3 linked regions of the Homo sapiens genome follow. The protein of the gene in region 1 purifies or fractionates together with the protein of each later gene. This does not show direct contact. Each region holds a gene or a part of one and is shown on either strand. Other genes may lie near its edges.

The links.
Region 2: the proteins of DCUN1D5 (region 1) and UBL7 fractionate together in Homo sapiens (co-fractionation; one large-scale study listed by BioGRID). This does not show direct contact.
Region 3: the proteins of DCUN1D5 (region 1) and PNO1 fractionate together in Homo sapiens (co-fractionation; one large-scale study listed by BioGRID). This does not show direct contact.

What each region holds. Positions count from the first base shown.
Region 1 is NC_000011.10:103,064,661-103,068,160, reverse strand, and holds part of DCUN1D5 (DCN1-like protein 5), read left to right. Parts: intron 1-1,593; coding exon 1,594-1,702; intron 1,703-1,787; coding exon 1,788-1,892; intron 1,893-3,500. UniProt on the Homo sapiens protein: Contributes to the neddylation of all cullins by transferring NEDD8 from N-terminally acetylated NEDD8-conjugating E2s enzyme to different cullin C-terminal domain-RBX complexes which is necessary for the activation of cullin-RING E3 ubiquitin ligases (CRLs).
Region 2 is NC_000015.10:74,451,161-74,454,660, reverse strand, and holds part of UBL7 (ubiquitin-like protein 7), read left to right. Parts: intron 1-2,282; coding exon 2,283-2,365; intron 2,366-3,140; coding exon 3,141-3,225; intron 3,226-3,500.
Region 3 is NC_000002.12:68,164,388-68,167,887, forward strand, and holds part of PNO1 (RNA-binding protein PNO1), read left to right. Parts: intron 1-550; coding exon of another isoform or gene 551-572; exon of another isoform or gene 573-1,487; intron 1,488-3,500. UniProt on the Homo sapiens protein: Part of the small subunit (SSU) processome, first precursor of the small eukaryotic ribosomal subunit.

The DNA.
Region 1 (3,500 bases):
AGATAATGCTAATGCAAATTAGAAAATGTTATAAATTTTAATCATATTTAAATAAACTTATATGTAAAATAATCAGTTATGAGAAAAGTATGGGACCAAAACATTCAAAAAGAAATAGAAAATCTGAATGGCCCTATGGCCATTAAAAATGTTGGTTTATTAGTTAAAAGTTTTCCTTCCCTCAATACTCACCTGAGTTTGGACAGATGCTAATTCCAGGGTTACATAAGCTTTTTCAAAAAACGGGGGGGAAAAGTAGCAATTCTCTTTTCATTTTCTGAGTCTTATGTACTACAATCTTGTTAAAAAAACTAGCAAGGAGAGTAAGAATGAAACTTAAAAGCTAGTCTCACTTAGGAACCTAGCAAAACAACCCCAAAATCCAGCAATGTATAAAACAGATAACATGACCAAATTTGACTTATTCTAGAAATGCAAGGTTTAATTAATATTAGAAAATTGTCCAAAATATTTACACATTAATGAAATTATGTTACTACACATTATAGGCCTTTGCATTATTGATTTAGTATAGTCTTAGTTAAATCTGAGAATGCCAGGTGGCTGGAGAGCATGTTGAATAACTAAAATTCAGTTTTGAGTGGAATACTGTGGACCACAGTAGATGGCACAATTAATTTGATTAAAGGGAGTCAGATGGTCTCTCAGAGGTGGCAAAATGTGAGTTAGGTCTTGATGAATAATATTTTTATCAGCATGTTTGAGATTTCAAGTGGAAATAATGGGTGCTGAAGTATGGCAGTGGCATTTGGGAATGGTAAGTGATATAATTAGAGCATGGTAAGGTTATCAGGAAGTGGCAGGAGATGAAACTAGAGATTTGTGCCAAATTGTGAAAGGCCTTGACTGCCTTGCTTCTTGCTAAACAGTGGAATTTATCAACCCACTGAGACAAAGTCAGTTAAGATTTTTGAGCCTTCCATATATTTAGCTGCTTATATTTAATGTCTTGTCTTTAAAAATAACACGTATGACTTGTTGTTTGCATGCTTTTGCATATATAACTTATTTGAAGTTAGGTGCTTCTACTGATTGACTTTGACTTTTTGTTCACAAAAATATAGGGATCTTGATTTATGACTGGACCACTTAATGTATTAATTTGCACTGTGTTATATCCTAAACTTTTAAAACTACTCATGACTAATGTCTTTCACCAAACTGTTACCTACGAACTTTCTAAAGAAATGTGTGACAAAGGCGTGATTAGTTTCATTTGCTCTGCCATTTTTAGCTGTATATGTGATAAAACATGTTTTAATACATCTCTTTTTAACTTCGATTTTATTTGGAATTTTTGAATGAGCTGTTTGTTTGTTTTTAAGCAAAGTAATTGGAGTGAACTTTCTTTGATTCCCAGGTTTTCTTTTTTCCCCTTTTTTCTTTTTTTATTGCATTGGTAGATGCAGGGCAAGAAATTTATTACTCTAAATTTGTGACTCAGAATTTTAAAACTAAATTAACTTCATAAATGCGCTCACTTTTTTCTTAATGCATTACGTCTAACCCCCAGTGATACTTTTATTTGATTTTCTTGATTATGTAATTTGTTTGATATTTCTTTTATTTAAGGTGTGACTGCACAGAAAAGTTACAAAACAAATTTGACTTTTTGCGCTCACAGTTGAATGATATTTCGTCATTTAAGAATATCTACAGATATGCCTTTGATTTTGCAAGGGTAGGTGCAATTTTCTTGTTTTGTTGTTTTAATAGCTTTTCATCTTGAGACCACACTTAGGAAAACTTTTTCACTTATATTTTAGGATAAAGATCAGAGAAGCCTTGATATTGATACTGCTAAATCTATGTTAGCTCTTCTGCTTGGGAGGACATGGCCACTGTTTTCAGTATTTTACCAGTACCTGGAGGTACGTATGTTTTTTCGAATTTTGAAAATATTATTTTAAAACTTAATCTGAAAGTTATACTTTTGAGGAACAAGTAGATTTTTAATAGTATGCTTTAAAAAAACTTTAGAGAAAAAATTCTAAAATATGTACATATCAGTTGCTATTTTTAGATAGAAGTTCATGTTTATTAATATATTTTGTACCTAAGATATTTTCAATCCTACCCCCCCAGTCCCCCAAATAAAAGAAACCTCCAAGAAATACATTGTATCACAGACATTTGTCTTGCAGAATTAGTTTCTCGGGGTTTTCATAAGAGAGTTAATGCTAGTACACAAACCTTTAAGCTTCTAAATCTGATTTTCTTCTTTTGTTACACAGGGTCTTAAGCTGAAATGTACATAAGAGAACCAATTTAGTAATAAAACTTTCCTTTTCTACTTAGGCTCAATCTAAAGAAACAGAATAAAGCTATTAATATTTTATGGCCACAAATATGAGAATGGCTATAATAGTATACTTAAATATGCTGGTTACTAAAAAAATGTAAGCTGAAATGATGACGTGTTCTTTTAGAAGGTTTATCATAGCAACTACTATAGGCAGTGATTCTAAGAAGATGCTATTCTTTTTTTCCATTGCTTTGTCTAGTTTTTTTTTTTTAAATCTGTTTTTGTGCCTTTGTAATTCTAGGGTTATTGGTATAGTTCTCACCATATCTTGAATACAGATGCTTTTTCCTTTGGAAATAATTTCTCATAAAGCACATTGCTTATAGCTGCTTCCCTTTTCCCAGAGTAGTAAAAGTTGTGATACAAGACAGTGATATCAGCTGGGCGTGGTGGCACACGCCTGTAATCCCAGCACGTTGGGAGGCCAAGGCAGGCAGATCACTTGAGGCCAGGAGTTCGAGACCAGCCTGGCCAACATGGTGAATCCCCGTCTCTACTAAAAATACACACAAAAAATTAGCTGGGTGTGGTGGTTTGTGCCTGTAGTCCCAGCTACTCGGGAGGCTGAGGCACGAGAATTGCTTGAACCAGGGAGGTGGAGGTTGCAGTAAGCTGAGATTGCACCACTACACTCCAGCCTGGGTGACAGAACGAGACTCTGTCTCAGAAAAAAAAAAAAAGAGACAATGATATGAAAAGGTCTTACATGAATGAGTTTTACGCATGATTCAATCTGTAAGTCCTATAAATTATTTTTGATGGATGGTATCTATTTTCTTCCTATTAGTAGTTTTGGGCAAAAATAAATTTAACTGAATGTAAAAATATTCAGCTCTATGGGGAGCTGAGAAGAACTAAATATTTTCAGACACTTGTTATGTGCAGGTTGTTTGGCATATATTTTTAAAAATCTTTATAATACCATTTTGAATTAAATTCTATCCCCATTTAACAAATGAGGAGGTGGTTTCTATTCTTAAGTAACTTTCCCAAAATCACTCAATTAAGTGGCAAGGGTGGGATTTAAATCGAAGCCTATACTCTTTCACTTGTTTCCAAAGATGCCAAACTCAAAATGTGGCTAAACAGTAAATCTTGAGCAAAGAAATGATTTACTAGGAAGCAGCACAATAGAACATACTGGATGTAGGAAATGTTATATATCTTGATCTCA
Region 2 (3,500 bases), on another chromosome or scaffold:
TTTGGGAGGCCGAGGTGGGCGGATCACCTGAGATTGGGAGTTCGAGACAAGCCTGACCAACATGGAGAAACCCCGTCTATACTAAAAATACAAAATTAGCCAGGCATGGTGGTGCCTGCTTGTAATCCCAGCTACTTGAGAGGCTGACGCAGGAGAATCGGTTGAACCCAAGAGGCAGAGGTTGCAATGAGCCGAGATCACGCCATTGTATTCCAGCCTGGGCAACAAGAGCGAAACTCTGTCTCAAAAAAAAAAAAGTCCTTTCTAATATCCTCTTACTGAGACAGCCCACGGTTTCCTGTGGTGTGCATTCTTCTCTCTGTACTGAGCAGTAAACCCAACTTGTTTAAATACAGATATGCCCCTCAGCTCTTTGGCTGGAGGGCATTAACAGAAGGAAAATAACATTTGTGGCTTCTGTGAGCCAGGTTTTTTCCCTTTTATACCTCATTTAATCATTACAGTGGCCCTGCAGGGTAGGTAACAGCATTAGCATCTTATGGAGGAAGAAAAGGGTTAGGGCATTTATTCAAGGTCAGCTACTTAGAAAGTGAATGCAAGAGCTGGGATATGGACCAGGGGTTTTCCTGGCTCAAGAGGAAAACCATTTCCACTGGGCTGGCTGCGTTCCACTTCTAAAGGATGAATTTAGCTCAGAGATCTTACAGTGACAGCCATGGCTCTTAGCTGAATAATGGCTTAAGATATTAAGAGTCCTTTTCCTCCCACCTTCTACCTGGAGGATTATTTTTGAAACAAATGACCTTTTTATTGGAAGGTTACAATAAACTTTTAGATCTGTAAAGAAACTGTTTTGTGACAGTGTTTTAGATATTTGCTCCTTGAGTGCTTTTCTTCACAAAGGAATCACATTTTGTGTTCTCCCACAGATTAGGGCCTATAGGAGAAGAACCCATTGTTGTCTGTCTTCCCACCTGGATCTCTTTGGTAGTCCTCCATGGCGGGTTACAAATCCCTTCAGGACGTCACCTTAACCTGCTGTTTGAGCTGGAATGTGTACCCCAAGCTCCAGCCACAAAGAATGACTTGCTGTTTGTTCAAAGCACCACATTCTTTTATTCTCCCATGCCTTTGCACATGTTCTCATTCAGGCTTGGAATACCTTCACCCCCCCAGTAAATATCAGCTCTCTCTTTGATACCCATTTCAAATGGTCTCCTCTGGGAGGCAGCTGTCTATCTTCACCCTCCCTCTCAGTGGTGCCTGTCTGCCTTTGTGTTCCTGGTACCCTAGCTGGGATCCACGTCTCTGTTGAGGTCTTCAACGTGGCATTTTGTAATTGTGTATTTGATGTAGTCTCATTTCTCCTCCTGCCCTAAGAGTTCCTTGATGGCAGGGGTTCTTATTTTTCATATTCTAGTTCCTTGCCTAAAGCCAGGCATGGAGTAAATGCTTAGTACATGTTTGTTGAATGAATAAATTAGGTAATTTACTTAAGATGACTGTTTTTCAAAAGACAGCCTCATGATCAGGACTGTCGATAAGGATGTGGCTGCCACCCTGAACCCCAGGGGTGCTATTCACCTTGCTTTGGGAGTGGTGCCCTGGAGTTGGGCAGTACACAGTCAGTACAGTCACAAGTAGTGGTCCTTCGTGAGGATAACCATACTTTAAAAAGTGTGACCCAGGGCTGGGCACGGTGGCTCACGCCTGTAATCCTAGCACTTTGGGAGGCCGAGGTGTGTGGATCACTTGAGGTCAGGAGTTTGAGACCAGCCTGACCAATATGGTGAAACCCCATCTCAACTAAAAATACAAAAATTATCCAGGAGTGGTGTTGCACACCTGTAATCCCAGCTACTCAGGAGGCTGAGGCACGAGAGTTGCTTCAACCAGGGAGGTGGAGGTTGCAGCGAGCCGAGATTGCGCCACTGCATTCTGGCTGGGCAAGAGGTGAGACTGTCTGAAAAACAAAGGCAAAAACACCAAAAAACAAATGTTATTAGTCTAGAATTCCTGCAGTGGTATGTTGATCAGAGCACCGTTTTTCATGTGGTAAGAGTCTCCTCTGCTGCAACTTGAATTTGTTTGTTTATCTGTGCAAGATGCTTACAAGTGAATGTAAAGATGCTTACTAGCAGTTTTCACATCCATGGCACAAATGGGTTTTTCTGAGCAGGCACTCACATTCTTAAGGGGTGATGAGGGAAGGGAATGCACAGACCAGGCTGCTCCTTGGCACATGCTGAAATGATGTTGCCATGTCTGTGGCAGAGACAGGACCTGCGCTATAGGGTAACTCTGAATGTCTTGTCCCCCAGAACCTGTGGACAAAGTGGCTGCCATGAGAGAGTTCCGGGTGTTGCACACTGCCCTGCACAGCAGCTCCTCTTACAGGGAGGCGGTGAGTGTGTGCTGCGGCCCCCAGCCAGGACTGTAGGAGAGGGTGTGAACGCTGGCTGGCGAGTGGTGTGGAGTGGGAGCTGGAAGCCCGTTGCCATGGCAACCAAGAGTTCCTTGGGGAGTTTTTGCCATGTCTGTGGGCCTCAGTAGAGCCCTGTCTTTCCCCAAAGAGCCTGTCTCAGTCAGGCGTTGTTGATTCCCTCTAATGATAATAATACAACCTGCCCGTATGGTGACAGCCAAAAGATCCTCATACTGTTTCTGCTGGGCCTCATTCTTCGACTTTGGCTGAACTGCCTGCTTACTGCCCCTTGACCTAGATGTCCTCACTGGGGAAGTGGGCTGATGTCTTTCTGTAGGAGAGTTGAGAGGCAAAATTAGTATAGCTGTGAACTTAGCGATATATACAAATATGAAATAGTAATTGTACAGAGATTGAAAAGGACTTTTGGATTGGAACCTAGAGAAACCTTTGTTACCGGGCTTGTAATGAGAGCTTTTATTTTGGAAGCACTAAACTGTAGGTGGGGAAAAGGAGCACAGAGATTTGAAGGTTTACTGTGGTCTTGCCTTTTTTTTTTTTAAATTGTTTGTTTCCCCTCCAGTAAGCTAAGATCTTAGAGCAAAAAGAGGTTCATCTGTTTCTGGGGCTATTGTTCCATTGTGGTGATGTACATGCAAGCACTTAGAGGGAGGAAGTCCTTTGGCAGAGTGTGGGCATTTGATGAGTACATTGAGCTGGTTGGAGTGCTCAGCCCCCGCCATTTCTCCTGCAGGTCTTTAAGATGCTCAGCAATAAGGAGTCTCTGGATCAGATCATTGTGGCCACCCCAGGCCTCAGCAGTGACCCTATTGCTCTTGGTAAGTGCAGGACTGAATTTGAGGAAATAGGAGTTGTCGGAAAAGGAGAAAACAGGAGAAGACAATTCCTCTAAAGAGACTTGGACTATCTTTTGAAGAATGACTGGTCTTGTGGGAAGAGGGAGAGTAATCAAGGTGTGTTTGATATCCCCAGCCCTTTAAGAGCTCTCAGTCCCACAGAGAGATAATGGCCTAACTAACATCGTAAATAAGGGTATGAGGATGCCAAATGAGGATAGCAGTTAGCCCACATCACAGCAATCAGGGAAGGCGTC
Region 3 (3,500 bases), on another chromosome or scaffold:
GGCCGAAGTGGGAGGATCACCTGAGCCCAGAAGGTTGAAGCTGCAGGGAACCACGATCGTGCCACTGTACTCAACCCTGGGCGACAGAGTGAGACTCTAACAAAATAAAAATAAAAATACCACATATAGTCTGGGCGCAGTGGATCATGCCCATAATCCCAGCACTTTGGGAGGCCAAGGTGGGAGGAAGGAATGCTTGAGCCCTGAAGTTCAAGACCAGCCTGGGCAACATAGGGATCTCCATCTCTACAAAAAATATAAAAATTAGGTGTGATTGTGCACACCTGTAGCCCTAGCTGCTCAGGAGGCTCAGGTGGGAGGATTGCTTGAACCAAGGATGTCAAGACCACAGTGAACCATGATGGCACCACTGCACTCTAGCCTGGGTGACAGAGTGAAACCTTGTATCCAAAAAATAAAAAATTAATTAATTTAAAATCCATATACAGATGCTCCTCACCGTATGGTGGGGTTACGTCCAGATAAACCTGTTGTAAATTAATGATCTCATAAGTCAGAAGTTCATTTGATACTTCATTTGATATCATAGGATACTTCTCTTTGAAAACTGAAGAGCATTCCGAGTGTGTACCACTTTGGCGCAATTATAAAGTCAAAAAAAAATCTTCGGTTAAATCATCAAGTCATGGACTGGCTGAGTAGCCCTGAAAGCTTTCATGAATTTAGAAATCCATGGCCCGGCACGGTGGCTCACACCTGTAATCCCAGCACTTTGGGAGGCCGAGGCGGGCGGATCACGAGGTCAGGAGATCGAGACCATCCCGGCTAAAACGGTGAAACCCTGTCTCTACTAAAAATACAAAAAATTAGCCGGGCGTAGTGGCGGGCGCCTGTAGTCCCAGCTACTTGGGAGGCTGAGGCAGGAGAATGGCGTGAACCCGGGAGGCGGAGCTTGCAGTGAGCCGAGATCCCGCCACTGCACTCCAGCCTGGGCGACAGAGCGAGACTCCGTCTCAAAAAAAAAAAAAAAACAACAAAAAAAAAAAAACTAGCTGGGTGTGGTGGCACATGCCTGTTATCCCAGTTACTTGGGAGACTGAGGCAGGAGAATTGCTTGAACCTGGGAGGCGGAGACTGCAGTGAGTCAAGATTGCACCACTGCATTCCAGCCTGGGCGACAGAGTGAGACTCCATCTCAAAAAAAAAAAAAAAAAAAACGGCTGGGCATGGTGCCTCACACCTGTAATTTCAGCACTTTGGGAGGCTAAGGCGGGTGGATCACCTGAGGTTAGGAATTCGAAACCAGCCTGGGCGACAGTGAGACTCTGTCTCAAAAAAAAAAAGAATTTAGAAATCTAAAACTAACTGATTTGCCAATGAAATTATATAGTCTGTCATTAAGTTTATTACTGGTAAATTTATAAGTATATTTGTAAGTGTTAACCTAAAATTTACTAGTTAAACCAACGTTTTAGAAGTTTATTGTGGCATAATTTACATACAATAAAATTCTATTGTTTTAAGTATCCCGTTCAATGAGTTTTTGGCAAATGTATATTGTAGTCCCATGACACTCATACAGTTCTCTTACCCTGAAAGTTCCCTCGTGCATCTTTATGGTCAGTTGCCTGCCCCCACCCTTTTCTGGGACAACCATTGCTCTTGTTTCTGTCACTCTTATTTTGCATTTTCTAGAAATTCATATAAATGGAAATACACAGTATGTAGGCTTTGGTGTATGACTTCTCTTAATTAGCATGTTATTTTGGATTTCTCCATTTTGTTGGGTGTATCAGTAGTTCCTTTTTATTGGCAAGTACTATTTCATTGCACAGGTATACTGTTGACCCTTGAATATTGCAGGGATTAGGGATGCTGAACCCCTAACATGGTTGAAAATCCATGTATGTATGACTTGACTCTCCCAAAACTTAACTACTCCTGCTTTTGGCTGGAAGCTATACCAATAACAAACAGTTGATAAACACATATTTTGTATGTTATATGTATTATATACTGTACTCTTTCATAAAGTAAGCTAGAGAAAAAATGTTATTAAGAAAATTATAAGGAAGAGAAAATCTATCTACTCTTCATTAAGTGGAAGTGGGTTATCATAAAGGTCTTCATGGTGAATAAGCTAAGGAAGACGAGGAAGAGGGGTTAATCTTGCTGTCTCATGGGTGGCAGAGGAGGAAGATGTGGAAGGCGAGGCAGGAGAGGCAAGCATACTCTGGAACTTTACAGAAATACATTGTAATTTCTGACTTTTTTGCCCTTTCACTTCTCTAAAAATGTTTCTGTAGGGTACCAATCCTCTTCCACAGTTTTTAGTTTCAGTGCCCACGTCATAAAAGGGTCTATGTCATAAAAGACGTCAAAAGCATCTTGAATAATCAGAAACCTTCTGCCAAATTGTCTAATGTCACCTTGTTTTCTGACACTGCTGCTTCTACATCATCTTCCTCATCACCCGGCACTGCTTCAGAAGCACTCACCTCCATCAAGTCGTCTTCTGTTAATTCCTCTGGCATAGTGTCTGTTAGCTCTTGATTTCTCCGTGATCCATATCTTGAAACCCTTCACCCCTCACTTTTGGCCATATCCACAGTCTCTTTCATGATTTCTTGTTTGGCTCTGTCGTAAATCCTGTACTGTCATGCAAAACCTCTGGACATGGTTTTCTCCAGCAGGAATTTATAGCTGCAGGCATGAGGCTTTCACAGCTTTTTCCATAATAATGACAGTGTCTTCAATGGCATGGTCCTTCCAGACTTTTATGATGTTCTTTCCATCGAGTTCTCTTCCATAGCATTGACACTATTTTCCATAGAGTAGTGTGTGTAATGAACCTTAAAGGTCTTTATGACTACCTGTTCTGGAGGCTGAATTAGAGAGTGGGTGCAAGGAGACCACTTTGTTGCCTTTCGGTATTGAACTCATGGGGTTCTTGGGTGGCTGGGACATTGCTCAACATCAAAAGAGCTTTAAAAGGCATTCCTTACTGGCAAGATACTTCCTGACTTCAGGGAAAAAGCATCAATGGAATCAATCCAGAAAAAGAGCTCTCCTTGTGCAAGCCTTCTTGTACATCCAGAAGACAGGCCACTGGTGTTTACCTTTTCCCTTCAAGGATCGGGGTTAGCAGCTTTATAGATAACGGCAGTCCTGATCATAAACCTGACTGCATTTGCACAAAACAGTAAAGATAGCCTATCCTTTCCTGCATTAAATCCTGGTGTTTGCTTCTCTTCTTTACTAATAATTGCCCTTTGTGACATTTTTTTCCAGAACAGGACGTTTTTCATCTGCACAAAAAACCTGTTCAGGCAGATATTATTTCTCCTCAGTGATTTTCTTAATGGCATCTGGGAACTTGTCTGCTGCCCTTTGGTGAGCAGAAGCTGCTTCTCCTGTTACCCTGACATTTTTAAAGCCACCTCTTTCTAACATTATCGAAGCATCCTTTGCTGGCGTTAAGTTCTCCAGCTTTAGATCCTTCATTTTCCTTTTGCTGTAAGTTGTCATATAATGACTTA